Homo sapiens: one gene and its partners. The main gene of each other region encodes a partner of the protein of the gene in region 4 in a complex. Each region holds a gene or a part of one and is shown on either strand. Other genes may lie near its edges. The genes, in order: SNRNP40, PPIH, PRPF3 and LSM2.

Region 1 (7,022 bases), on a different chromosome or scaffold from region 4:
GCTGTAGTCTGTGTAAAGATAAATACTGTTTTGTATTTTCCTTTTTTGCTTAATAGCTTATTATGTAAATATTTTTACATTTGGTCTTCTGAGTTATTTTTAGGAACTGCTTAACAATAGCTACACATTATTGAGGACCTGTCTTGTGCCCGGCATATGCTAAGCATTCTTATAATCCTTACAACAGCCGTAAGAAGTAGCTATTGTTATCCCTAATCTTACAGACCAGGAAACAGGCCCAGAAAGAATTAGTGACCCAATGACACATAACTCTAAGTGGCAAGGAACAGTTTATTCTTACCCTAAGTCACCACTCTTTCTACTCTGTCATGCTATCTCCTGTATGAGAATTCAGTTTTGCAATGTGCTTATGAACCATAATTTAATAAACCACCTATTTTTCCTGCTTGACGTTTAGGTTATTTTCTGTATCTTACGTTTCCTATACAAGCAATAGTGAACCTGTAATTTATTTTTATTTTAATAAATGTGCTTTTCCATAGTGTATGTGCATGTACATATCCATACATGTACATATATATACATTTATTGTCACATATTGTTACATTAAAAGAAAAATTTTAAGCATCTGTATTTTTCATATTGTTACACAAACATGTAATCATAATGCCTTTTTTAAATGACATGTTCGTTTTATGTATTTATAATAATTTTTAATGGCTAAGAATCATAGCCATTTTTAGTTTTTTTCTATAATAGTTTTTCTTTGCTATGATTTGAAAATAACCTTTCTGAATTCTATTTTTTTGTGTGTAAAACTTTATCTTAACATTTGATATGCATTCGTTTATATTTATCTAGTCAAACGTGGTAGCCTGAGCTACCTTTTTAGAAAGACAGAGATTGGCCAGGCATAGTGGCTCATGCGTGTTAATCCAAATACTGAGAGGATGAGGTGGGAGGATTGCTTGAGCTCGGGAGTTCAAGACTAGCCTGGGCAACATGGTGAAACCTGTCTCTTCAGAAAAATTAGCTGGGTATAGTAGCATGCTCCTGTAGTCCCAGCTACTGGGGAGGCTTAGATGGGAGAATCACCTGAGCCCGGGAAGTCAAGGCTACAGCGAGCCATGATAGTGCCACTGCACTGGGCAACAGAGTGAGACGCTGTCTCAAAAAAAAAATGAAAATTAAAAAAAGGTGTTTTTCTCTTTGACAGAAATCCTGTGTTTTATAGTAGAGTAATATCAGTGTCTCTGGGCAATTGACTCTTGTCTCTTGTGTCATTCTCTTTCTCTGCTTTTATTAATTTGATTTCTGGGGGCACCTTTCTGTTTTTGCAGGTCTGGGACCTGCGCCAGAACAAGCTAACCTACACCATGAGAGGCCATGCAGATTCAGTGACTGGCCTGAGTTTAAGTTCTGAAGGCTCTTATCTTTTGTCCAATGCAATGGACAATACAGGTAACTTTGGAAAGGAAATCTCTCCCAGGATCCAAGGAAAAAGTCAAAGATTGCTCACAGATTCCATCAGACGATTAGAATGTGTTGTAATGGGGAAAGCTTTAGGTGAGATAGTCAAGAATCTAGGACTGTAGTCTCAGATCTCTGTCTTGTCCCTGAACAACTTTGCACACAGCATTTCTTCTCTCTAGGCATCAGTTTCTACATTGATAAGAAGATTGGACTTTACCTTTAAGACCCATCTCAGCTCTGGTATGCTGTGTATCCAACAGGATATTAGAAACTCTAGGTGATGAGTTTAATGAAAAAGATGTGAATCTAGAAGTCTATTCAAGGCAGTTCTTGTGCGTTTTCAGAGAGCACCAAGCTTGGATGATCTCTTCTGCTCTTTCCTGCCAGTCTGTCTTCCCTCCCCACTCTGAAAGCATTGGTGTGGGAAGAGGTCTTCATTAAAACATTCTGGATTTACACGAACACACTCTTGCTCTTTCTCTTTACTTGTTTTTGAGTTGTAGGGTGGGAGGATGGGTTACTACAGAAAAAAAGTAAGGTGACTTGCTGGATTATATGCTTAATGTTGAGGGAGTTTGGAAATGGCCCTGGTATACAAAATTATAGGCTTGTCAGGAACTAAAATGTATTCCCTGACATTTTGTAACAAAAACAATACCTGACATTCATTGGGTACTTAATAAATATTTGTTGAATTAATGGACATCTTTACCTTTTAACTATATTCTCAATGGCAAACTTTCACGCATAGCTTTGCCTTTTTATGCCTGTCTGACTCCAAGGATTGATAATACTTTTTTCATACTCAAATAAAATGACATCACTGAAATTCCACTATAGGTATAGCTTCAGTTACAACGGCTATAGCTACTGCTTACAATAGATGTTTATACACATTTAATCTAGCATTAAAAAAATATTTTTTCCTTAATTTTTTTGATAAGACAGGATCTTGCTGTGTTGCCCAGGCTGGTCTCAAACTCCTGGGCCCAGGCAAGCCTCCCAAGTACCATGCCTAGCTAATTCTAGCGTTCTTTATGAGGAACAATGAGGTTTCCTAGATTGATACTAAAATAAGGAAAAAATAATAGAATAATTTCTTGTGGCTGCATAATACAATTACAAATTCTTTATTTTTGTTTGTTGCCTACAAATTTTAGAACCTTTGCACATATATCATCTCATTGGATCTTTAAAATAGTGTTATTGGCTGGGCAGGGTAGATCACCTGAGGTCAGGAGTTTGAGACCAGCCTGGCCAATGTGGTGAAACCCCATCTCTACTAAAAATACAAAAATTAGCCAGGTGTGGTGGTGGGCACCTGTAATCCCAGCTACTTGGGAGGCTGAGGCAGGAGAATCACTTGAATCTGGGAGGCGGAGGTTGCAGTGAGCCGAGATCACGCCACTGCACTCCAGGCTAGGCAACAAGAGCGAAACTCCATCTCAATCATATCAGTCAATAATATTATTTTAAAAAGAAGACAGATAATTTTCTCTTCATTTTACAGAACAGAAAAACCAAGACACAAACAATCTCACTGTTTACCTGACATCACCCAAATATGTAACAGAGATAGAATCAATGTTTACTTTTTCTGATTTTTGGTATGGTACAGTGCTTTTTTGATTTATTTGACCTTTTATATATTTTATATATATCTGACCTTGTCCAGTCTTAGACTATCAGGTGCCCATATGAGGGAAATTAGGAAAGGGCGATGTAAGTTTGGCTTTTATAAGTTCATTGTCACAGTAGTTCCTGGTATTTAGTTTGTCACATTGAAGCTTTGCTGGATGTGACTAAGCTGGCAGAGAAATCTTGCAAAATATCTTTTTGAAATTAGTATCACACCCAACTGCATTCTGTTGCAAATTACCAACATTGTGTGTGACATTTTTCCTTCCTGCCCCCTCAGCTAGCCCCAGTTATTGGGATTTAGATGTGTTTTCCTGCTTGAAAAAGAAAAGAGCCTTAACAGGTAGCAGTATGTCAAGTTGGACTTTGCCCACCGAGGAAACAGCATCTGCCATTGATTGACATGATACTAATTTCAGCTGGGTGCCCAGGAGGCCTCTGGCCGATAGTTGTTTTGGTTGGTTTGTTTATTTGGATTTGTTTTGCAGTTCGTGTCTGGGATGTCCGGCCATTTGCCCCCAAAGAGAGATGTGTAAAGATATTTCAAGGAAATGTGCACAACTTTGAAAAGGTGAGTTCTGCATGGCAGAGGAGTTTTACTGTTCATTTACTTCAGAGAAACATTTAAGGTGGTACTAAGGATAGAGAGCAGTAGCTCTGCTAAGAATGGACTTCATTCCAATAACACTGCTCTTAATTAAAACTTGTTGCCAAAAATAAAACGGATAGAAATAATAGTGACTGGGGAGAAGCCAGTCATATAGCCCAAAAGGAATGGAGCCAGCCCTCAAACTGAGGGCATCTGACTTGACACCAGCCTCAACAAGAGACTCCTGGCCTTTTTAATTACTTGGGAATTTTACCCTCCTAAATCAGTTTTCCATATGGAACCCAAGCTCCCATAGCTGTAACCTGGATGGTCTCCCTACCTGCCTCCGCATCCCGTGACCATGTGTGTTAGAACCCTAAGAATACATCTCTTCCCTCAGTAACTACCACGGCCCAAGTTCTGAGAGAGAAAATTTTTTTCAAAGCCTCAAATTTCAAGGTCAGCTCTATTGAAAGAAGCTTTTCCCCTCAGAGAATTTGTTAATAGAGATTTTTTTTTTTGAGAGCTCATTGAGATTCAGTTTCACTGTATAAATCAAATTTTGTTTTTTAGACCTGGCATGGTGGCTCACAGCTGTAATCCCAGCACTTTGGGAAGCCAAGGTGGGAGGCCAGGAGTTAGAGACCAGCCAGGGCAACATAGTAAGACCCTGTCTCTACAAAAGATAAAAAATCTGGGTGTGGTGGCATGTGCCTGCAGTCTCAGCTGCTTGGGAGGCTGAAGTGGGAGGATCACTTGGGCCCAGGAGGTCAAAACTACAGTGAGCTATGATTGTGCCACTGTACTCCAGCTTGGACAAGAGAGCGAGACCCTGTCTCAAAAAAAAAAAAAACCCAAAATTTATTATTTGTTGGGTTTGCGTGTATTTTTCTTCAAGATAAATAGGAAAAAAAATGAGTATCAAGATAAATGGAGCAAAGGGAGCCTCCATTTATAAGTAGAACAAAATTTTGTTGCCAGGTTCAATCTAATTAACTGTAAGTTAAGTATTTTCTACAGTTTTTATATGGTGTAAAATAACAAAGTATGCTGTTTTGGGCCATAGAATATAAGATAATTACAGACCATCTTCCTGAGAAGAGTAATTAAAACTCTAGTTAGGAAATTTAAAGCCTCTTAGTGATTCGGTAGCCTTGCAAAGAGGAGTTTGGTATATTACTATTCAGTGGATTCTTGTTTATCATAGAACCTTCTGAGATGTTCTTGGTCACCTGATGGAAGCAAAATAGCAGCTGGCTCAGCCGACAGGTAAGGATTAGTGGGTGCAAAGTAAAGAATGATGTAGCTGGCCGGATGCGGTGGCTCGTGCCTGCAATCCCAGCACTTTGGGAGGCCGAGGCGGGCAGATCACCTGAGGTCAGTTCGAGACCAGCCTGACCAACATGGAGAAACCCCATCCCTACTAAAAATACAAAATTAGCCGGGCGTGGCGGCACATGCCTGTAATCCCAGCTACTCAGGAGGCTTAGGCAAGAGAATGACTTGAACCTGGGAGGCAGAGGTTGCGGTGAGCCGAGATCACGCCGTTGCACTGCTCCAGCCCGGGCAGCAAGAGCGAGACTCCATCTCCAAAAAAAAAACAATGATATAGCTATGCAGGATGTCTTCTTGTGTTTTATACATAAAGCGTGGATATGGAGCTAGAGCAGACATAGAGTTATGACTGTGCTTGAAGATGAAGCTCTGTGCAGTATGAAGGGTTTCAAAACCGTGTTCGACAAACAGATCATTTCTACCCACTTTGGAGACATTTTAGACCTAGAGGATCAACAATTTGTTTGATTCTGTTGGGTTCCCTTTGCCATCAGAATAAAATTCAGTCTCATAATCTGTCTCTAGTTTCCCTCACCACATTTCTTATTCCATGCTTCAGTTCATTTGAACACATATTAAATACCCACCTCCCCCACCATCACCACAATGCTGCGCACATGGAATTTTCATATTCTAACCTCCTTTTGCGTTCTCACCTCTAGGTTCTCTCTCACATTCCCTCTTCATTATCTAAACTCCTATATCTCTCTAGTAACCACCTCTATGTTACATCCATAAACTGTCCCTGGTCCCCTCTCTCTATTACCTCTTGGAGATAACTAATTGTTCTTTGTGCTGTAATCCCATTTCATACATCTAAACTTTGGTAGCATTTATTACATCTTACAATCAGACAGACAAAGTGAGGTACCTCCACTAAGTTATTTTCTCCTAGAGATTAGGGAATGAATCTTAGTCATTTCTGTGAACCCATGGCACTGTTGTCAGTGCTTGAGCTTTTCTAACCAATTAGTTTATATTACATGAATGAATTCCTAGCTGAAGAATGGCAGTCCAATTTTACCCTGCATAGCAGCTCAGCTATTGGTAATGCCTGCCTGTGTTGGAGATGATTCAGAGCTGTGTCTGGGTTAGTGGGAAGTGCAATGATTGCTAGGTGCAGGGTGTAACAAAATGTGAACTAGGTATTTTCCACCCCATGCTGAATTAATCGGCTAAGGCTTTATGAAATACGAATCTAAACTGGCTCAGGCATTATGTGCTGAATGAGAAACAGAAGGGAGAGAATTCTTCTGTCAGATGCTGTTGTATTTGGCATGTCTGTGGTAACCTGTGCTTGGGGGAGAATCAGAGGTTGAATAGGGATGTCCAGGTGTCGAGTCTGATGGGCTGCAAATGAGGCCTGGTAAAGAACAATAAGACCCTCTGACAGCAAATCCTGTGTTTAGCTCTCATTGGGCAGTGTCTTGACCCTTTTTAGCTTAATCCTATCCTCCCCTTTAGAGTTTCTCTTTCAATCCTACTGAAACAAGCACCATCCTATAAATAGGAAGACTTTCTTGGGCTAGCCAGGGCTTTCAGCATATTCCAGGGTTTTCCTCTATTTGGGGCCCTAACGCTGCCACACAGAAGCTGCACTGTGATCTGTCCCATACCTTTCTATTAATGAATAATTCTGAACATATTTAAATTCCAGAGTCTACTTTTTTTTTTCCTGACAAGTTTAATGCCAAGAAAAATGGACAAGTATTCAGGTATTTTCTGGAGGAAAAAGAAAGGGTCCAGGTGAAAGTGTCACATTGATCATTTGAGTGCAAGTGGTTTAGAGAGCTGCCTAGAAGAGGGAAATCTAAAGAATTTTAAGTTATCAAGTTGCTAGAGAAGACTTCAAGAAACAGACTAAGGTGTCTCATATTCTGATATAGTAAGAACTATCCTAAGTATTTTTACATAATTTTCAGCAGAAAGAGTGTATCTTTTGTAATTAAATTTTTGTTTGTTTTTGAGATGTAGTCTCACTCTGTCGCCCAGGCTGGAGTGCAGTGGTGCAATCTCTGCTCACTAC
Region 2 (7,022 bases), on a different chromosome or scaffold from region 4:
TTCTTCTCTTTCCCATTTGAAAGTTGCAGACTTCTTGACACTTTACCCCTAAGTATTTCAGCAAGGAACTCCTAAAAATAAGAACATCCTACGTAACCACAATATTATCTAATATATAGTACATTTTCAAACCTCCCCAATTGTCCCAAAAGTAACTTTTGTAGCTTAAAAAAAGGTGATCCAATCAAGGTTCCCATATTTCATTTCATTTGGTTTACACAAGTAACATAATACACTCTCATTGTGAAAACTTTCACACCAAACAGATAAAGTGAAAGCCCCTCTTGACAATACCCACCTGCAATTCCACTCCCCTTTCCAAAGGTCACTTCCTTATTAGTTTGATGTATGTCCATCAGGGCCTTTGCCTTGCCCATCTAATTTTGGGAGGTTTTCTTTTTCCCAAATGAAATCATACTATATTTTTCATGTTCTAAAAAATATGTCTTGAAAACTTTTCCTTCTTAGTTCATGTAAAACCACCTTGTATTAAAAAATGAAAACAGCCCGGCAGGAGGTGGCTCACTCCTGTAATCCCAGCACTTTGGGAGGCCAAGGAGGGCAGATAGCTTGAGCTCAGGAGTTCGAGACCAGCCTGGGCAACCTGGTGAGATCCCGTCTTTCCAAAAAAAAAAAAAATTAGCCAGGTGTGGTGGTGCATGCCTGTAGTCCCAGCTACTCAGGAGGCTGAGGTGGGAGGATTACTTGAGCCCAGGAGTTTGAGGCTGCAGTGAGCTATAATCACACCACTGTACTCCAGCCTGGATGACATCAAAAAAAAAAAAAAAAGGAAAAGAAAAACCGAAACTGCAGTGCAGGCTGAGCATCCCTAATCCGAAATCCCAAATGCTCCAAAATATGAAGCTTTTTGAGCACTAACATGACATTAGAAGTGGAAAATTCCACACCTGACTTCATGTGATGGATCATAGTCAAAAATCTGTTTCATGCACAAACGTATTAAAAATATTGTATAAGATTACCTTATACAATAGCTATAAGTAGCTAGGACTACAGGTGCATGCCACCACGCCCAGCTAATTTTTATATTTCTTGGTAGAGATGGGGTTTCATCATGTTGGCCAGGCTGGTCCCCACCTCAAGTGGTCTGCCCACCTTGGCCTCCTAAAGTGCTAGGATTACAGGCGTGAGCCACTGCCCCCAACTGAGCATTAGTTCTTAATTTTATATGTTGTAATTGTTTTCTTCAGAATATATTTTAAGAAAAAAATTAGTATTGTGTTGCTTAAGTTTGGTGATATTCTTTGTTAAAGAGAAGTTCTAAATTTTGATGAAGTCCAAATTATCAGTCTTTCACTGCTTTTCAGTTTTGTCTCATTTAAGGTCTTTACTACCTCAGATCACAATGTTTTCTGTGTTTTTTCTAGTATTTCTTTTTATATGGTGGAGCTAAGATCATTTTTCTAGTATTTTTAAAGTCTTATTTGTACATTTATAAAATCATCTATAATTAATTTTTCTGTATAGTGTTAAGATAGGACTTTTTCTTGTCTTTTTTTCCAAATGGAGATCCAGTCAAATACCTGACCATTTTAATGACTCTACAACACACCTTTATCTGTGACCAACTCTGTTCAGAAAGCTGGCACTTACAGGCATTCAGTAAAAATTTATTACATGAGTTAAGTAGAGAGGGAGAATGTCAGGCATTTTAGGCGGGGAACTCGTGTGAGCAAATGCTGAGGCTGGAATGCACAAGTGTGTGCTGAGAGCTACATGTGGACCTCTCTTGTTCAGCCAGATGATCCCTTCTCAGGCCCACTTGACACCCTGAGCTTTCCTTTCTGCCAATACTGGGTCCCCCTTGGGCCCAGCCTGCTCTCCCTCTTCAATGGCTGCTGGCCATTCCCTCCGTCTCCTACTCATTTCTTTGCTGTAACTAAAGTTGAGTTCATAGGTCCTTTCTTTTCAAAGACTGACCACTGATCACTACCAGAGGACAAACGATAACAAAAAGAATAAAGTTTAGAAATTCTTAATGTTGGGGCCTCTTTTCTGTATCTTTTTGAGTCTTTTACATAAAGTTACTGGAAGTCCTTGTTGAGGTTTTATTTCTGAGGGTGGGGATCATCAACCCTCCCCGCTCTCCCCCACTGTTAGCAAAAGTTATATGAACTTTTGCTTCCAAGAAAGCCCTTCTTCTCAGCCTGCAACCCAAGCAGAACGCATTCCTCAGGTGGCCATTGTACATTCCACAGGCCCGCTAGACCAGGACTGTCCATAGGCTGTGATGATGGAAAGATTCTAGATCTGGGAGGTCCAGTATGGTTGCTACCAGCCCCATGTGACAACGGAACACTTAAAATGTGGCTGGTGCAACTGAGGGACTAAACTGTTAACTTTTTATTTTTTATTTATTTTTTATTTTTTTGAGATGGAGTCTCGCTCTGTCGCCCAGGCTGGAGCACAGTGGCGCCGTCTTGGCTCACTGCAACCTCTACCTCCCGGGTTCAAGCAATTCTCCTGCCTCAGCCTCCTGAGTAGCTGGGATTACAGGCGCACGCTGCCATGCCTGGCTATTTTTTGTATTTTTAGTAGAGACGGGGTTTCATCGTGTTAGCCATGCTGGTCTTGAACTCCTAAGCTCAGGTAATCTGCTCATCTTGGCCTCCCAAAGTGCTGGGATTATAGGCGTGAGCAAACATTCCCAGCCTATTTTTTTTTTATTGACAGAACTAAGCTGTAGTTTATTAAATTTAAATTAGGCTGGATGTGGTGGCTCACACCTGTAATCCCAGCACTTTGGGAGGCCGAAGCAGGTGGATCGCTTGAGGCCAGGAGTTTGAGACCAGCCTTGCCGACATGGTAAAACCCATCTCTACTAAAATTACAAAAATTAGCCGGGCGTGATGACACACGCCTGTAATCCCAGCTACTCCAGAGACAAAGGCACGAGAATCTCTTGAACCCGAGAGGCAGAGGTTTCAGTGAGCCAAGATTGTGCCATTGCACTCTAGCCTGGGCGACAGAGCGAGACCCTGTCTCAAAAATAAATAAGTAAATAAAAAAATAATAAATGTAAAGAGCCAGTTGTAGCTAGTGGCTACTGTACTGGACAGTGAACTCTTTTAAATGTAAGCTTCTCAATCTACTCGCCCTGGCTTGCTTAGAACTGAATCTCGTAGCTAATACTTAAGGGCACTATAATTAAAGCAGTTATCCTTCAATGAATTCTTCCTGTGCCCGGATAATGAGCTAAGAACTTTACTTGAATTATCGCATTTCACTTTACCAAAAATCCCTCATAGGTTTTAAGGTGTTAGGAAATCTGGGTGGCAGTCTAATGTAAAGGGGTTCTACAGATGGGCACCCCATTTTGGGTTTCTGAATAATGTGATTTAAGAAAAATTAATGAAAGAGGAGATGAATTTCCCATGGAGCAGGGGTGTGGAGGGAAGGGAAGTGGTATTTTTAAGCCCTATTGGGCAGTATTTCTTTCTTTCTTTTTTTTTTTTTTTCGAGACGGAGTCTTGCTCTGTCGCCCAGGCTAGAGTGCAGTGGCGCGATCTCGGCTCACTGCAGACTCTGCCTCCCAGGTTCAAGCAATTCTCCTGCCTCAGCCTCCCGAGTAGCTGGGATTACAGGTGCCCACCACCGCACCCAGCTAATTTTTGTATTTTTTAGTAGAGACAGGGTTTCACCATCTTGGCCAGGCTGGTCTCAAACTCCTGACCTCATGATCCATCCGCCTCGGACTCCCAAAGTGCTGGGATTACAGGCATAAGCCACCATGCCTGGCCGGGCAGTATTTCTTATACTTTAACGTTCATACGGATCTCCAGGAGATTTGTTATAAAATAGTGGTTCTGACTCAGTGGGTTTGGATGGGGACTGAGATTTTGCATTTCTAATCAGCTCTCAGGTGATGCTGATGCAGACTGTGAGGCAAGTCAATAGGGGATAAGAGTCTATCTTTTAATTGAGAACTTGCCATATTCCAAAAAAAAAAAGACCAAGAGGAAGTACTCTCTTGGTGGCACTAGTCCAGCAGGAATCCATTGCATTCACATCAAGGTATCACCTAATCCTGCATTTGAGGCCTTGTGCCCAGGCACTGGACATATGCAGTGAAACAGCTAAGAAGGAGATAGAAGACGGGTCACTTGATCAATTCTACCTCCCTATGGAGCACTTCTTTCCAGAACCTTTGTGTTTTGCCTTCCTAGGTTCTGACTTTGGTTTTAGTGAAAATGAAGTTTTGTGTACAATTTTTTTTTTTTTTAAGACAGAATCTCACTCCGTTGCCCAGGCTGGAGTGCAGTGGCACGATCTCAGCTCACTGCAACCTCCGCCTCCCAGGTTCAAGCGATTCTCATGCCTCAGCCTCCCGAATAGCAGGGATCACAGGCATGCTCCACCACGTCTGGCTAATTTTTTTGTATTTTTAGTAGAGACAGGGTTTCACCAAGTTAGCCAGGCTCGTCTCAAACTCCTGATCTCATGTGATCTGCCCGCCTTGACTTCCCAAAGTACTGGGATTACAGGCGTGAGCCACCATGCCTGGTCTGTACAACTTTAGTTATAGAAACCTTGGTTTTATCTCAGTGAGTTCTGGGAGAGTTTTTTTTTTTAGACAGGGTCTTACTCTGTCACCCAGGCTGGAGTGCAGTGGCGCAGTCACAGCTCACTGCAGCCTCGACCTCCCTGGCTCAAGTGTTCCTCCCACCTCAGCCTCCTTAGTAGGTGGGATTATAGGCGTGCAGCACCACACCCAGCTAACTTTTTAGAGATGGGGTTTCACCATGTTGTCCAGGCCGGTCTCAAACTCCTGGCTTCAAGCGATCTTCCCACCTCAGCCTCCCAAAGTGCTGGAATTACAGGCATGAACCACCGTGCCCAGCCCTTGGAAAACTTTTTATGATGAATTTGGTTATGTATAGCATAAATGAACCTCTACACTCAGGATTCTCCTGCTGTAGTCTGAATGGGTTGTTTGCTACTTACATGGACATGGGAGAGGGTGGCACCTCTCTTTTGAAAGCCCGAGTTCTGGCAGCTCTGCTAGTCTGATATGCTTACCCTCTTCCCTGTGATCCTCAAACCTGGTACCAGTACCAAATGGTAGAGAGCTTTCCTTAATTCATTGTTGCCTAGATTCTCCAACAGGTAATAATCATTTTGGGGCACTCGTTAAACCTACGAATTCCTAGATCCCTTCCCTGGAGTATTTGATTGAGTGGCTTTGGGGTGGGACCAGGATGTTATGTTTGTAACAAGTATCTCACATGCTTCTTAATAGAGAAGTGTGGGAAACACTACTTTAGTTAGTGGTGGGATGACTGTCTTTTATTTTAATATTTGGATCTTAGGAAAAAATACGGAATTAGCACAATACATCATTTTACAGTTATTACAGCTTATAGTGAGGCAATATTGAAGTTCAAATAGTGATTAGCTTAAAAAATAAATTGTACCTGTGGATGATAGATATTGTAACAGTTGTGAAGATGCTATTTGAATGACTAAGGTTTAGGAAACACTGTGTTTCATTCTAGAATTACCTATAGATGCGAGACATTCCCGTAGGGGAAGATTAGGAAATATGTGTTGGTGGCAGTTGGGCTGGTCCTCTATTCATTCCACAACTAAGCGCTGATGAATTAAGATAGTTCCCATGCTGCATATGAGGCTACAGATTTGAAAAGTCAGTTCCATCCTTCAAGGAACTCAGTCTCTTGGGAGAACTGACAATTACAGTACAATAAAGCCCTGTATTGGAGGTTTTAGAACAAGGTGAGGAAAGCATAAATGCCCGGATCTTCCCAGAGTGGTTGAGTAGACTACAGAAGAGATGATGCTTCAGTTTAGTACAAGAAAGAATATAACTTGTCAGGTGGCTAAAACTGGGCAGGGCATTCCAGGCAGAGGGAACAGCCTATGCAAAGTCACAAAGGCAGGAAACAGCAGGAAGTGTAGAGGAAGCTGCAAATAATTCAATATGACTGAAGCAGGAAGATATGAAAAGCAAATGGTGAGAAGGTTGGAGAGAGGCCAGGGCCAGTAGTGAAAGCCAGTGCCAAGTTTAGCAGTTCATATGTTATTCTGAGGGCAGAGGCTGACTTTCAGGCATGAAGTAATTTTTCCCTTTTGGGGAAGGAGTCCACTGTGCTCCTGAGATTCTCAAAAGGGGCACTGACCCTCCAAAAAAGAATCAGGCCAATATGAACCACTTAAGGATTTTCAGCAGAATACTGTAGATGAATTTTCATGTTCAGAAGATGATTCTAGCAGCATTGTGGAGGATGGGCTGGAGGCCAGTGAGGAGTCTACTGCAGTAGTAGTCCAGGCAAGAGAAAAGAGGTTTTACATGAAAATATGGGTCTGGGGAACACTGGAGATTTGGCAGCAAATATTTATGTGCCTGCTGGGCATGTGACACTGTATGTTCCCTGTCCTGAAACTCAGAAGCTCTGCCAGCTGAAAAGGCCAGGAGTGGAGAGAATGTCTGGCTCCAGTCCATTCCAGTCCAGTACAAAGGCAAAGCTGCTTGCATTGCAGCCAAGTCTTACACACGTAGAGGTTCCATTCTCTTCAGTGGAATACTATACAGCCTTAACAAAATAAAGAGGTAGATCTGGATGTGTTGGCAAGATTTCTAAGGTAAGTTAAGTGACAGTCAAGATGTAGTAATTTATGTAAGCATGTTACTGTTTATTTTGAATGACTTTCAGGAATCTCTGCAGTGATATATAGCAGACTGTGGATAATACTTCTGCAGAGTAGAGATAGCAAAGAGACTTTTCAGTTGCCTTATTTAAGCTTGAATTTTCTACCTTGAACATGTATCTTGTAATAGAAATACATACTGTTTATATGTAGTGTTAACTAATCCTAAATCCTCCCAGCACTTCCCAGGAGCCTGCCCACAGCTGTGGCTAACATCAGGTGTGAATCCATTGCTGATCCCTCCACCTCCTCTTCCAGGTCTAAGCCCAGACAGTGGGTGCTCCCACAGCACTTGGTTCATCTCTCCACTGTGGCATTTAATATACTGTATCACA
Region 3 (7,574 bases), on a different chromosome or scaffold from region 4:
GATCCAGGGAAATGGTTAGTACATCAGGAATGCATTCCCCAGCCCTATTCTCAATCCCTAGACAAGTTTTTCCAACTCATTTGAAGGCAAATATTTTCCCCAAGAACCATATCTCAAAGCAGAAAGAGATCCCATTTGATTTTTAATTCTAACTCTTAAGTTGATCAATGAAATCTGCGGAATAAACAAACTCTGTGAATAAGCTAAGTCTGAGAAATTAGTTCTAGCTTCTTTCTTGATCCTGTCATATCAACAAGGACTTGCAAACCTAGTAACACTAAAACAGAACTAAAAAAGCCCATCCAGAGGCCAGCTTTTCCATTCTTCCTACTTCCAGGCAGGCATTCCCTAACCCAACCCTGACTTATGTAGGATTCCCTTCTTTTAAGGTATGCAAGTAAAAGAGGGTTTATCCAGGTCAGTCATCTTAGATATTAAATTAAATCTCATGATCTTTAAGAATGTTCTGGCCGGGCGCGGTGGCTCACGCCTGTAATCCCAGCACTTTGGGAGGCTGAGGCAGGTGGATCACGAGGTCAGGAGTTCAAGACCAGCCTGGCCAAGATGGTGAAACCCCATCTCTACTAAAAACTACAAAAAAATTTAGCTGGGCATGGTGGCAGGCGCCTGTAATCCCAGCTACTCGGGAGGCTGAGACAAGAGAATCACTTGAACCCAGGCAGCAGAGGTTGCAGTGAGCCAAGATCGCGCCACTGCACTCCAGCCTGGGCAACAGAGTAAGACTCCGTCTCAAAAAAAAAAAAAAAGAATGTTCTGTCACATTTCTCTGTGGTCATATTCATCCCAGTGGGAATTCTGCATACAGGTAATTATCATGTTCAATCTACAGGGTCTCCATCAGCTGACTTGATGATCCTTCAGCTCAGAAAAGAATACCCTCATTTTTATTTTGAGACAGAGTCTCACTCCGTCGCCCAGGCTGGAGTGCAGTGGCGTAATCTTGGTTCACTGCAACCTCCATCTCCTGGGTTCACTTGATTCTCCTGCCTCAGCCTCCCAAGTAGCTGGGACTACAGGCATGCACCACCACGCCTGGCCAATTTCGTAGTTTTAATAAAGACACGGTTTCACCATATCGGCCAGGTAATGCCTTACCTCAAGTGATCTGCCCACCTTGACCTCCGAAAGTTCTGGGATTACAGGCGTGACCCACTGCACCTGTCTCTACTAAAAATACAAAAATTAGCCAGGTGAGGTGGTGGGCACCTGTAATCCCAGCTACTTATGAGGCAGAGGCAGGAAAATCACTTGAACCCAGGAGGCGGAGGTTGCGGTGAGCCAAAATCATGTGCACTCCAGCCTGAGCGACAGAGTGAAACTGTGTCTCCAAAAAAAAAAAAAAAAAAAAAAAAGCCAGGTGCGGTGGCTCACGCCTGTAATCCCAACACTTTGGGAGGCCAAGGCGGGTGGATTATCTGACGTCAGGAGTTCGAGACCAGCCTGGCCAACATGGTGAAACCGCATCCCTATTAAAAATACAAATATTAGCTGGGCGTGGTGACCTGCACCTGTAATCCCAGCTACTCTGGAGGCTGAGACAGGAGAATCCCTTGAACATGGAAGGCGGAGGTTGCAGTGAGCCGAGATCGCACCACTGCACTCCAGCCTGGGCGACAGAGCAAGACTCCGTCCCGGGGAAAAAAAAAAAAGGTGTCTAAATGGGAGTCAATAAATTGACTGACCTCAATTTCCAAGCTCAGCTATTCCCAGCAGTGCCACTTATCAAAGATCTGGGAATCATCTTTCAAGATGTTTTAAGACATCTTTTCTCCAAAAAATCCAGTCTGATTAACTTCTACATTCTTGGTAAGTTTAGCCTCTATACTAGAGTCTATAAGACTTGATGCCAAATAGACTCACTTTTGGTATATCCAAAGGAAGCTAGTAGATTGAAGTGATGAAACTAAGACTGAAAGATTTTCTGCCTCAGTGACAAGTTACGTGAGTAATTCTATGGTGGTTCTATTACCCCACAATGAGTAGACATACAGCGTACCAATTTCTACATATTACACATGTATTGCACAAAAGCGGCATATCCAGATGCCATAGAAAGTGAAAACAAGAGTTCACACAGAAACAGTTGGGACACTGAGCCCCACCATTTACAAGCCCTTGGGCAAGTTAAGTAATTCTTTGGAGCCACAGTTTACCATCTTACAAAATGAGTACTGCCATATTTACATCCTAATTCATTCAATAAATATTTATTGAGTAACTACTAAGTGTCAAGCAATGTACTAGGTGCGGTGGATACATAAAACAGTGAGCAAAACTAACAAGAGTCCTCACCTTAACGGGTCTTATATTCCACTAGAATTGAATGATAGGCTAGAAAGTATAAGCAATTTGAAAGCCCAAAGCAATAAATGAGGTGCCACTGTTACCTCCATAAGATGACGTGCAAACTAAACAGCCAATGGATAAAAAAGTTTCAAACGGTAATTAGCCTTGTCACTAATCAAATGCTCAACAATAACTGCGAGGTGCGGGGGTAGTGGGGGTGCGGAAGGAAAGCGAGGTACAATGATCTCTCCTCTCAATGAGCAGGCAGCAGAATCCAAATCCAGTCTTCAGAAGGAATTCCTTACTCCGTGCTCTTGTTTGCTACAACCTGAGTTTCCCTCTGCAGCCCCCCACTCCCCCGCTAATCTTCATTTTTACTCTCTCCGTCACTCCAACCAGTCTCTTACTCTACCTTGTTCTACCTAAACTCCTCACCCCAGAGCTGGTCTCCCAACCCGGTCTCCTTCCCGCCCCCGCCCTTTTCCTCTCAACAATCTCATTCCAACCTCTTCTCCCACCAAACCAGGTACTCCTTTCACACTCCTTCCCGCTGAACCCTCCCGCTTCGGTCCTCCCCTTGGACTGAGTCCCCGGCCACAGTGGCGCGGACTGGAATTACCCTCTGTGGGCCCGGGGCCACTACTCACCTCACAAACTTCAGCCCCTGAGACGGAGCCCGAACGTTACACCGGAACCGGAAACCTTCTGACCGCCCTACGGCGTGCCGTCGCTACCGCCACCGCCGCCGCCACGCCGCTGTCTCCCAACACGTGACCAAGGAGGGCCGGGCCGCCAATTCGCGCAGCCGTATTTGCCACTTTCTTGGAGGCTGAACGCATGCGTCGCAGAACCGAAAAGTTTCCCTGAGCAATTTCCTTGCTTTCTATTTCCCAGGCTAAACCTATTAGCTAGATTTCTGCCAAGGTTTTTTTTTTAGCTTTTTTTTTGAGACGGAGTCTCGCTCTGTCGCCCAGGTTGGAGTGCAGTGACGCGATCTCGGCTCACTGCGAGCTCCGCCTCCCGGGTTCACGCCATTCTCCTGCCTCAGCCTCCCGAGTAGCTGGGACTACAGGCGCCCGCCACCACGCCCGGCTGATTTTTTGTATTTTTAGTAGAGCCGGGGTTTCACCGTGTTAGCCAGGATGGTCTCGATCTCCTGGCCTCGTGATCCGCCCGCCTCAGCCTTCCAAAGTGCTGGGATTACAGGCGTGAGCCACCGCGCCCGGCCGATTTCTGCCAAGTTAATGTCTTTAACTTCCTGAAGCGGAAATTGGGCTACTTGCTGTTTTCCTCATATGGAGAATAAGTGCGCAAAAGTAAACTTAGGCTAGAATGAAGAGCGAGGCTTCTGCGTTTGTGTTCAAACACAGCCTTTCTGGTAGAAAGTAAACCCTTTCTCCCTAATTTAACAGTGGTGTCAGGCCGGGCGCCGTGGCTCACGCCTGTAATCCCAGCACTTTGGGCTCAATAAATGACAAGTGAGACCTACCAGTATTGTTTTCTCCATTCTATCAATAGGTCTATATATTAACTTCTCTCCAAAATGAGGCTCTAACCTACTGACCCTTTATTTTTTATTTTTATTTTTTATTTTTTGAGACGGAGTCTCGCTCTGTCGTCAGGCTGGAGTGCATTCGGCTCACTGAAACTTCCGCCTCCCGAGTAGATGGGACTACAGGCGCGCGACCACCACGTCCAGCTAACTTTTGTATTTTTAGTAGAGACGGGGTTTCACCATGTTGGCCAGGATGGTCTCCATCTCTTGACCGCGTGATCCGCCCACCTCGGCCTCCCAAAGTGCTGGGATTACAGGGTTGAACCACCGCGCCCGGCCCCTACTGACTCTTTAAATCGATGATTCATAACAACATGTGTGTGGACAAAGATAGTTTGGAAAAAGATTGTCCAGTATTATGACACAATTTCTTATATGAGAAATGGAAAAAATTCCATTATTTTTATATTATAAACTATCCAAACTAAAGTTCCAAAATGTCTTCTTGGTGGTAGGCTGACTAGAAGATGCAGTTGTTCTTCAGGGAGGTTATTCACATTCCCCAGATAGTAGGAGATTTTTGTATCTAAAGATAACAATGTACATACCAAGCCCCACCTTCCCTGATGGGGCAGCACGACATAACAGGATAAAGCCTGGCTCTGAAGGAACAAGTTGGGGGAGTTTGAACCTACTGCTCAACTTATTCACAAATCAGTTTCCCCACCTACAGCTTCTAACACCAATGTCTCACAAAATATTCACTCAAAAAGTCTGTTGAATGGGTTAATGAGTTTCAACATTGCAGGGTTGTTGTAAATTTATTTTGTTTTGGTGCTTCTAACAGTCTGCGTTCAATTCCCTATGGAGAAATGTGTTTCTAGAAACTGGTTTTAGGCCAGGTGTGGTGGCTTACGCCTGTAATCCCAACACTTTGGGAGGTCGAGGCGGGTGGATCACTTGAGGTCAGGAGTTTGAGACCAGTCTGCCGACATGGTGAAACCCCATCCCTACTAAAAAAAATGCAAAAATTAGCTGGGTGTGGTGGTGGGCACCTGTAATCCCAGCTACTCAGGAGGCCGAGGCAGGAGAATTGCTTGAACCCGGGAGGTGGAGGTTGCAGTGAGCCAAGATCGCGCCACTGCACTGCAGCCTGGGCGACAGAGGGAGACTCCATCTCGACAAAACAAAACTGATTTTATTTCCAATTTTTAGAATTGGATACATTTAAACTGTAGCTTTCCGGTTACTAGCTGTGTTTCCTTCAGGTAATTTTTTCTGAGATTGTTTCCTCAATTATAGAATAAGAATCTCTACTTCAAAAAGGTATCGTGAGGATTAAATGTAATGTGTAAGACACAGTGTGGTACTGGCGTAAGAACAGGCAGGTAAACCAACAAAAGAGAATAGAGGGTCGGGCGCGGTGGCTTACGCCTGTAATCCCAGCACTTTGGGAGGCCGAGGTGGGCAGATCACGAGGCCAAGAGATCGAGACCATGCTAGCCAACATGGTGAAACCCCGTCTCTACTAAAAATACAAAAATCAGCTGGGCGTGGTGGCACGCGCCTGTAGTCCCAGCTACTCCGGAGGCTGAGGCAGGAGAATCACTTGAACCCGGGAGGTGGAGGTTGCAGCCAGCCGAGATTGCACCACTGCGTTCCAGCCTGGTGTCAGAACGAGACTCTGTCTCAAAAAAAAAAAAAAAAAAAAGGAAGAATAGAGAGCCCAGAATAAACACTCACATATATGGTCAGCTGTATTTTTTTTCTTTTTCTTTTTTGAGATGGAGTTTCGCTCTCATTGGCCAGGCTGGAGTACAATGGCGCGATCTCGGCTCACCGCAACCTCCGCCTCCCAGGTTCAAGCAATTCTCCTGCCTCAGCCTCTGGAGTAGCTGGGATTACAGGCAAGCGCCACCACGCCAGGCTAATTTTGTATTTTTTTTCTTCTTTGTTTTGAGACGAGTCTCGCTCTGTTGCCCAGGCTGGAGTGCAGTGGCACAGTCTCAGCTCACTGAAACCTCCGCCTCCTGGGTTCAAGCAATTCTTCTGCCTCAGCCTCCTGAGTAGCTGGGACTACAGGTGTGTGCCACCACGCCCGGCTAATTTTTTGTGGTTTTAGTAGAGACGGGGTTTCACCGTGTTAGCCACGATGGTCTAGATCTCCTGACCTCGTGATCTGCCCGCCTCGGCCTCCCAAAGCGCTGGGATTACAGGCGTGAGCCACTGCACCCGGCCTCATTTTGTATTTTTAGTAGAGACGGGGTATCTCCATGTTAGTCAGGCTCGTCTCGAACTCTGGACCTCAGGCGATCTGCCTGCCTCGGCCTCCCAAAGTGCTGGGATTACAGGCATAAGCCACCGTGCTCGACATTTTTTTTTTTAGACGGAATCTCCCTCTGTTGCCCAGGCTGGAGTGCAGTGGCTCAATCTTGGCTCACTGCAACCTCCACCTCCTGGGTTCAACCAATTCTCCTGCCTCAGCCTCCCGAGTAACTGGGACTACAGGCGCATGCCACCATGCCCAGCTAATTTTTTTGTATTTTTATTAGGGGTTTCACCATATTGGCCAGGCTGGTCTCAAACTCTTGACCTCGTGATCTGCCCACCTCAGCCTCCCAAAATGCTGGGATTACAGGCATGAGCCCCTGCACCTGGCCATGGTCAGCTGATTTTTGACAAAGGTGCCAAGGCTATTCAATGTGGAAAGGACAGTCTGTTTAACAAATGATGCTGGGAAAAGCAGATATCCACAAACATAAGAGTTAAATTGGACCCCCTACCTCATACCGTATACAAAAATTAATTCAAAATGGATCTAAGACCTAAATTTAAGAAATATACAAAAACTAGAGGTCGGGCACAGTGGCTCACCCCTATAATTTCAGCATTTTGGGAGGCTGAGGCTGGAGGATGACTTGAGGTCAGGAGTTCAAGACCAGCCTGGCCAACATGGTGACTCAATCCCCGTCTCTTCTGAAAATAGAAAAATTTACCAGGTGTGGTGGCACACTCTTGTAGTCCCAACTACTTGGGAAACTGAGGCAGGAGAATCGCTTGAACCCAGGAGGCAGAGGTTGCAGTGAGCTGGGATCACGCAACTGCACTCCAGCCTGGATGACAGAGGGAGACCCTGTCTCAAATAAGTAGATACATACATAAAAGTAGGGCTGGGCACAGTGGCTCACATCAATAATCCCATGCAACTGCACTCCAGCCTGGATGACAGAAGGAGATTCTATCTCAAATAAATAAATGTAGGGCTGGGCACAGTGGTTCATATCTGTAATCCCAGCACTTTGGGAGGCTGAGGTGGGTGGATCACTTGAGGCCAGGAGCTCTAGACCAGCCTGCCCAACATGGTGAAACCCCATCTCTACTAAAAATACAAAAATTAGCTGGGCATCGTGGTGCATGCCTGTAATCCCAGCTACTCAGGAGGGAGGCACTAGAATCTCTTGAACCTGGGAGGCAGTGGTTGCAGTGACTCAAGATTATCCCACTGCACTCCAGCCTGGGCCACAGAGTGAGACTCTTTTTTTTTTTTTTTTTTTTTTTTCGGAGACACAGTATCGCTCTATCCCCCAGGCTGGAGTGCACTGTTGCGATCTCAGCTCACTGCAACCTCTGCCTCCCAGTTTCAAGCAATTCTCATGCCTCAGCCTCCCGAGTAGCTGGAATTACAGGTGCCCGACATCACGCCCGGCTAATTTGTGTATTTTTAGTAGAGATGGGGTTTCGCCATGTTGGCCAGGCTGGTCTGCAACTCCTG
Region 4 (7,890 bases):
ACAGACACCGAGCGGCTCATTGGGGATGCGGCCAAGAACCAGGTAGCAATGAATCCCCAGAACACTGTTTTTGATGCTAAACGTCTGATCGGCAGGAAATTTAATGATCCTGTTGTACAAGCAGATATGAAACTTTGGCCTTTTCAAGTGATTAATGAAGGAGGCAAGCCCAAAGTCCTTGTGTCCTACAAAGGGGAGAATAAAGCTTTCTACCCTGAGGAAATCTCTTCGATGGTATTGACTAAGTTGAAGGAGACTGCTGAGGCCTTTTTGGGCCACCCTGTCACCAATGCAGTGATTACCGTGCCAGCCTATTTCAATGACTCTCAACGTCAGGCTACTAAGGATGCAGGTGTGATTGCTGGACTTAATGTGCTAAGAATCATCAATGAGCCCACGGCTGCTGCCATTGCCTATGGTTTAGATAAAGGAGGTCAAGGAGAACGACATGTCCTGATTTTTGATCTGGGTGGAGGCACATTTGATGTGTCAATTCTGACCATAGATGATGGGATTTTTGAGGTAAAGGCCACTGCTGGGGACACTCACCTGGGTGGGGAGGACTTTGACAACAGGCTTGTGAGCCACTTCGTGGAGGAGTTCAAGAGGAAACACAAAAAGGACATCAGCCAGAACAAGCGAGCCGTGAGGCGGCTGCGCACCGCCTGCGAGAGGGCCAAGAGGACCCTGTCGTCCAGCACCCAGGCCAACCTAGAAATTGATTCACTTTATGAAGGCATTGACTTCTATACATCCATCACCAGAGCTCGATTTGAAGAGTTGTGTGCAGACCTGTTTAGGGGTACCCTGGAGCCTGTAGAAAAAGCGCTTCGGGATGCCAAGATGGATAAGGCTAAAATCCATGACATTGTTTTAGTAGGGGGCTCCACCCGCATCCCCAAGGTGCAGCGGCTGCTTCAGGACTACTTCAATGGACGTGATCTCAACAAGAGCATCAACCCTGATGAGGCCGTAGCATATGGGGCTGCGGTACAAGCAGCCATCCTGATGGGGGACAAGTCTGAGAAGGTACAGGACCTGCTGCTGCTGGACGTGGCTCCCCTGTCCCTGGGGCTGGAGACGGCTGGGGGCGTGATGACTGCCCTGATAAAGCGCAACTCCACCATCCCCACCAAGCAGACACAGATTTTCACCACCTACTCTGACAACCAACCCGGGGTGCTGATCCAGGTGTATGAGGGCGAGAGGGCCATGACAAAGGACAACAACCTGCTGGGGCGGTTTGACCTGACTGGAATCCCTCCAGCACCCAGGGGAGTTCCTCAGATCGAGGTGACGTTTGACATTGATGCCAATGGTATTCTCAATGTCACAGCCACGGACAAGAGCACCGGCAAGGTGAACAAGATCACCATCACCAATGACAAGGGCCGCCTGAGCAAGGAGGAGATTGAGCGCATGGTTCTGGATGCTGAGAAATATAAAGCTGAAGATGAGGTCCAGAGGGAGAAAATTGCTGCAAAGAATGCCTTAGAATCCTATGCTTTTAACATGAAGAGTGTTGTGAGTGATGAAGGTTTGAAGGGCAAGATTAGTGAGTCTGATAAAAATAAAATATTGGATAAATGCAACGAGCTCCTTTCGTGGCTGGAGGTCAATCAACTGGCAGAGAAAGATGAGTTTGATCATAAGAGAAAGGAATTGGAGCAGATGTGTAACCCTATCATCACAAAACTCTACCAAGGAGGATGCACTGGGCCTGCCTGCGGAACAGGGTATGTGCCTGGAAGGCCTGCCACAGGCCCCACAATTGAAGAAGTAGATTAATTCTTTTTAGAACTGAAGCATCCTAGGATGCCTCTACATGTATTTCATTCCCCTCATCTTCAAACATCATTATTATTCTTGACCAGACCTGAATCTAAGTTACCATCCCTTGGAAATTCTGGAGAAGGAGTCTCATGCACCACCTATCACACTCCCTCACATCCTGTTTCTGACTTTGGAATGGACTCAGGAAAACTAGGCCCCTCTTTAAACCGTGTGATGTATTTGAATGTCTGTTATTTCCAGCCACCCTAACATTCTTCTTCCTGTGTGGATGCTTATTTGTCAATCAGTAAATTTGTTCGTAAAGAAAATTACTTCTGGTATTTAGGCTGTGAATGTACCTTGAAGGGGAGAGTTCATGGAGAGAGCATGTGTTCTCTGATTGTGAGGTCACTGTGAATGATTAAATTGGTAAGGGTAAAGTATTTGAATTTTCATGAACTCATTTTGTGTGTGTGTGTGTGTGTGTGTGTGTGTGTGTGTGTGTTTTGAGAGACAGTCTCGCCCTGTCACCCAGGCTGGAGTGCAGTGGCACAATCTCAGCTTACTGCAAGCTCTGCCTCCTGGGTTCACGCCATTCTCCTGCCTCAGCCTCCCGAGTAGCTGGGACTGCAGGTGCCCCCCACCATGCCCGGCTAATTTTTTGTATTGTTTTAGTAGAGACGGGGTTTCACTGTGTTAGCCAGGATGGTCTCGATCTCCTGACCTCGTGATCCGCCCGCCTCGGCCTCCCAAAGTGCTGGGATTACAGGCGTGAGCCACCGTGCCCGGCCCATGAACTCATTGTTTCAATCAGCCACATAATTTTTGATCCTCAGACACCTTTAGCACAGATGGAACAGATGGCAAACTATAACTGCTTTTAATCAGTTACAAGCTGGTTTTGGAGTTTAGGACTCAACTGGGGGTGGAGGGACAAATCCTGCTTGATGTCCTGATGTCACTTATAGGTAAGGTCCAGGAGATTCAGCATCTATGCACTCACAGAGTTCATTGTTTACATCCATTACATGGAGAAAATATTTCTTTTCTTTTTTTTTTTTTTTGGAAACAGTTTCGCTCTTGTCGCCCAAGCTGGAGTGCAATGGCACGATCTCGGCTCACTGCAAACTTTGCCTCCCAGATTCAAGCGATTCTCCTGCCTCAGCCTCATGAGTAGCTGGGATTACAGGCGCTCACCACCATGCCCGGCTAATGTTTGTGTTTTTAGTAGAGACGGGATTTCACCATGTTGACCAGGCTGTTCTGAACTCCTGACCTCAGGTGATCCACCCACCTCAGCCTCCCAAAGTGCTGGAATTATAGGCGTGAGCCACCGTGCCCAGCCCCAGAAAATATTTCTATAACAAACTCTTGACAAATAAGTATGTCTATGCAAGATGACAAATACAAGTTTTATGAAGTCTCAGTCCATGAAAAAATATTTTTACCAGCTGGGCACAGTGGCTCACGCCTGTAATCCCAGCACTTTGGGAGGCCGAGGCGGGCGGATCATGAGGTCAAGAGATTGAGACCATCCTGCCCAACATGGTGAAACCCCGTCTCTACTAAAAATACAAAAATTAGCTGAGGACGGTGATGCGTGCCTGTAGTCCCAGCTACTCAGGAGGGTGAGGCAGAGGAATCGCTTGAACCCGGGACGTGGAGGTTGCAGTGAGCTGAGATCGTGGCACCACACTCCAGCCTGGTGATAGAGCGAGACTCCATCTCAAAAACATTTTTTTCTTTTACCTGTGTCCTAATACATATTTATAAAAACCTGGGGGATATGAGTTAGAATAATATGTAACTGCATTTCTGTCTGTTTGTGTTTGAAACATTTAACAGTGAAATGTTAGACTGGGTTATTTGTATCTGTGAGCCACAGTCTCTTTAGTTTTACACAGTCCTTTACAGGACAGTCTTGGCAAAAGTGTGTAAGAAATGCGGAGATTGAGGTTGGCTCCTTTGGAGAAATGTATTTATTGGTAACCTTTGATAAAATCAAAATTTGTGCTCCAGCTCCTCCTTATCTCTGGGACTGCTCAACGTTGTTTGTTTATAATTTTCTTTTTTCTAGAGAGAGTCTCGCTCTGTCACCCAGGCTGGAATGCAGTGGGGAGATTGTAGCTCACTGTAACTCTTGGGTTCAAATGATCCTCCTGCCTCAGCCTCCCCAAATGCTGGGATTTACAGGCCTCAACATTTTTTGTTTTTTGGGATGGAGTTTTGCTCTTGTTGCCCAGGCTGGAGTGCAATGGCAAGATCTCCACTCACTGCAACCTATGCCTCCTGGATTTACAGGCGCGTGCCACCACACCCGGCTAATTTTTGGGTTTTTAGTAGAGACAGAATTTCGCCATGTTGACCAGGCTGGTCTCGAACTCCTGACCTCAGGCGATCCACTTGCCTTGGCCGCCCAAAGTGCTGGGATTACAGGTGTGAGCCACTGCTCCCGGTCATTTTTTTTTTTTTTTTTTTTGAGACGGAGTCTTGCTCTGTCGCCCAGGCTGCAGTGCAGTGGCGCGATCTCGGTTCACTGCAACCTCCGCCTCCCAGGTTCAAGCGATTCTCTTCCCTCAGCCTCCCGAGTAGCTGGTATTACAGGAGCCTGCGACCACGCCTAATTTTTTTTGTATTTTTAGTGAAGATGGGGTTTCACCATGTTGGCTAGACTGGTCTCGAACTCCTGACCTCACACAATCCACCCACCTAGGCCTCCCAGAGTGCTGGGATTAAAGGCTTGAGCCACGGCCCTCGGCCTTTTTTTCTTTTTATCAGCTGAATTTAAGATTCAAAACATTTTTTAATTTTATTTTTTAAATTTTATGTTTTTACTTTAACAAATATAGAAAAGTGCACACTTCATAATCTTAACAAACTCCCCACAATTCTCGATAGGAAGTGTGTGTAGGGCACAAACACATCACGCTGTAGATGGCAGGATTCTGGAAAAGAACAAAATCCTTTGAGCTCAGGCGCTGAGTCCCGCCACCCGTCTGGCAGCCCAGGCTAGGGTCCGCGCCTGCGCAATGGGAGCCGGCCGGCCAGGGAGGAAGTCGGAATGAAGGAAACCCCGCCCCTTTCCCGGCTTCCTCCTCCCCTCTACTCTACCCAGCTTGCGCTCCCCAGCCGCAAGTCGGCCGCGCTTTGCCCGTCAGCGCTTGGAGCTTTCTGCGTCGCTTCCCGCTGCGCCTGCGCGGTCCCGCCTCGCCCCACGCGCGGGCTCGCGCTTCGGTTTCCCCAGACCTGCTCGCAGCACCCTGCTGTCTTCCCGGTCCGGCCCGCTGCCCGCGGCGCCAGCACCATGGTGGGTACCGTGACGTCAAAAGGGGGCGCCCTCGGGGACCTCGCATGGTTGGGGCGGGGGATCTGGCCTTTGTACCCCTAGGCTGGAGTTAGGTCCGGAGTTTTTATCTTCATCTTTAGTACTGTACTGTTTCTCAGGTTCATTGAGGAGGCACTGAGAACAAATGGGATATTTTTTCCATGATGAGGGAAAAAACCCCAACCCTGAGAGAGATTCAGTGAGGATAGCGGGAGACGGAAAAGTTAGACCTCAGAGCACTTCTCTGCCAGGCAAGCTTCGGCAGGGTGCGGGTGGGATATTTTCTACAATTCATTGAAAGGAGTGGGCAGGTACCCGAGAAAGGTGGTCGACTGAGAGAGCACAGTGGGGAGGCCGACGTATGCAGGGCAGAGTCTCTCTGGGACTTTAAGTGATGGGCTCAGTGCAGTGTGCAGAATAATTTGGGCTCCAGCCTTTCAGCTCTGTCAACCAATTATTCTTTCCTGTGAAATTTTGAGAACTGTCAGGGATGCAGTGGGGTTCACAATACCAGTATTTGGTAATACTGTCAAAGGACACTCCTCCCTACCATGCTCCTTCCCACATGATGGTTTTCCCCCTCTCTCCCAATAGCTCTTCTATTCTTTTTTCAAGTCCCTTGTGGGCAAGGATGTGGTCGTGGAACTAAAGAATGACCTGAGGTAGGTACCTGTTCCAACAAGTCTGTTGGGGGTGGGTGTGCCCAGGGCCCTGGAACCTCTTTAATTTGAGAAATATTTCAGGGCTAGGCGAGGTGGAAGATGTACAGAAGAAATAAATGGATAGGGTGCAGTGGCTCAAGCCTGTAATCCCAGCACTTTGGGAGGCTGAGGAAGGAGGAAAGCTTGAGCCCAGGAGTTTGAGGCTGCAGTGAGCAGTGATTACTCCATTGCACTCTAGCCCAGGCAATAGAGCAAGACCCCATCTCTAAGAAAAATTTTAAAATTTAGCAATAAATAAATGCCTTGTGCCTTAAATTTACAGATAAGCTTAGAGATTGTATCGTGTATTGGAAAACAATACAAAGCAATATATAGTTTAAAGAGTAAATACAGGTCAGGCGCAGTGGCTCACGGGCTGGACGTGTGGCTCATGCCTGTAATCCCAGCACTTTGGGAGGCCAAGGTGGGCGAATCACGAGGTCAGGAGTTCAAGACCAGCCCGGTCAAGATGGTGAAACCCTGTCTCTACTAAAAATACAAAAATTAGCCGGGCACGGTGGCTGGTGCCTGTAATCCCAGCTACTCGGGAGGGTGAGGCAGGAGAATCGCTTGAACCTGGGCGGCAGAGGTTGCAGTGAGCTGAGATCACACTGCTGCACTCCAGCTGGGTGACAGAGTGAGATTCTGTCTCAAAAAAAAAAAAAAGTAAGTACTAGGCTGGCCATGGTGGCTCACACCTGTAATCTCAGCACTTTGGGAGGCTGAGGCAGGAGGATCACTTGAGTCCAGGATGTCGAGACTAGTCTGGGCAACATAGTGATGAGACCTCTATTTCTATAAAAAATTAGCCAGGTGTAGTGTACATGCCTGTAGTCTCAGCTATTCGGGAGGCTGAGGTGGGAGGATCACTTGAACCCAGGAGGTCAAGGCTGCAGTGAGCCATGATTGTATCACTTTACTCCAGCCTGGTTGACAGAGGAAGACTCTGTCTCAAAAAAAGAACAGGCCAGGCCGGGCGCGGTGGCTCACGCCTGTAATCCCAGCACTTTGGGAGGCCGAGGCAGGCGGATCACAAGGTCAGGAGATTGAGATCATCCTGTTTAACATGGTGAAACCCTGTCTCTGCTAAAAATACAAAAAATTAGCCAGGCGTGGTGGCATGCTCCTGTAGTTCCAGCTACTTGGGAGTCTGAGGCAGGAGAATGGCGTGAACCTGGGAGGCGGAACTTGCAGTGAGCCAAGATGGTGCCACCGCACTCCAGCCTGGGTGACAGAGCAAGACTCCGTCTCAAAAAAAAAAAAAAAAAAAAAGAAAAAAAAGAACAGGCCATAGGCCGGGCACGATGGCTCATGCCTGTAATCCCAGCACTTTGGGAGGCTGAGGCGGGTGGATCACGAGGTCAAGAGAGCGAGAACAGCCTGGCCAACATGGTGAAACCATGTAGTGTATCTAATACCTAGCATAGGCCAGTTATATGATAGGTGCTTAAAGAAAGAAAAATAATATCCGAAGACGTATTGACTAACCACTATTCTGAATACATTTATTGATTGATTTCTCAAACACTGCTAAGTAATATATACTATTGCTGTTTTACACGAGGAAACTGAGGCTTAGATCAGCTATACCACTTGTTCAAGTCTACAAAACTAGTAAGTGACACAACTGAAATATGATTCTGTCCAGCTTTTTTTCTTTCTTTTTTTTTTTTTTTGAGATGGAGTTTCAGTCTGTCACCTAGGCTGGACTGCAATGGCGTAATCTCGGCTCACTGCAGCCTCTGCCTCCTGGGTTCAAGCAATTCTCTGCCTCAGCCTCCCTAGTAGCTGTGATTACAAGTGCCCACCACCATGCCCGGCTAAATTTTGTATTTTTAGTAGAGATGGAGTTTCACCATCTAGGCCAGGCTGGTCTTGAACTCTCGACCTTGTGATCCACCTGCCTCAGCCTCTCAAAGTGTTGGGATTACAGGCGTGAGCCACTGCGCCTAGTCCTACTTTCTTTCTTAAAATAATATTTATTTATTTAAAAATTAGAGACAGTGCCTCACTTTGTTGCTCAGGCTGGTTTCAAATTCTTTGAGTTCAAGCAGTCCTCTTGCTTCAGCTTCCCAAAGTGCTGGGGTTACG

The links.
Region 1: LSM2 (region 4) and SNRNP40 share a complex: the UniProt entries of both Homo sapiens proteins name them as parts of the U4/U6-U5 tri-snRNP complex.
Region 2: LSM2 (region 4) and PPIH share a complex: the UniProt entries of both Homo sapiens proteins name them as parts of the U4/U6-U5 tri-snRNP complex.
Region 3: LSM2 (region 4) and PRPF3 share a complex: the UniProt entries of both Homo sapiens proteins name them as parts of the precatalytic spliceosome.

What each region holds. Positions count from the first base shown.
Region 1 is NC_000001.11:31,265,779-31,272,800, reverse strand, and holds part of SNRNP40 (U5 small nuclear ribonucleoprotein 40 kDa protein), read left to right. Parts: intron 1-1,301; coding exon 1,302-1,422; intron 1,423-3,560; coding exon 3,561-3,643; intron 3,644-4,868; coding exon 4,869-4,930; intron 4,931-7,022. UniProt on the Homo sapiens protein: Required for pre-mRNA splicing as component of the activated spliceosome. Component of the U5 small nuclear ribonucleoprotein (snRNP) complex and the U4/U6-U5 tri-snRNP complex, building blocks of the spliceosome.
Region 2 is NC_000001.11:42,668,422-42,675,443, forward strand, and holds part of PPIH (peptidyl-prolyl cis-trans isomerase H), read left to right. Parts: intron 1-6,866; exon of another isoform or gene 6,867-7,022. UniProt on the Homo sapiens protein: PPIase that catalyzes the cis-trans isomerization of proline imidic peptide bonds in oligopeptides and may therefore assist protein folding. Participates in pre-mRNA splicing.
Region 3 is NC_000001.11:150,316,973-150,324,546, reverse strand, and holds the start of PRPF3 (U4/U6 small nuclear ribonucleoprotein Prp3), read right to left. Parts: upstream 3,015-7,574; 5' UTR 2,955-3,014; exon of another isoform or gene 2,409-2,954; intron 1-2,408. UniProt on the Homo sapiens protein: Plays a role in pre-mRNA splicing as component of the U4/U6-U5 tri-snRNP complex that is involved in spliceosome assembly, and as component of the precatalytic spliceosome (spliceosome B complex).
Region 4 is NC_000006.12:31,803,945-31,811,834, reverse strand, and holds the start of LSM2 (U6 snRNA-associated Sm-like protein LSm2), read left to right. Parts: upstream 1-4,868; 5' UTR 4,869-5,077; coding exon 5,078-5,080; intron 5,081-5,692; coding exon 5,693-5,760; intron 5,761-7,890. Other genes in the region: HSPA1L (heat shock 70 kDa protein 1-like), read left to right, coding at 1-1,788. UniProt on the Homo sapiens protein: Plays a role in pre-mRNA splicing as component of the U4/U6-U5 tri-snRNP complex that is involved in spliceosome assembly, and as component of the precatalytic spliceosome (spliceosome B complex).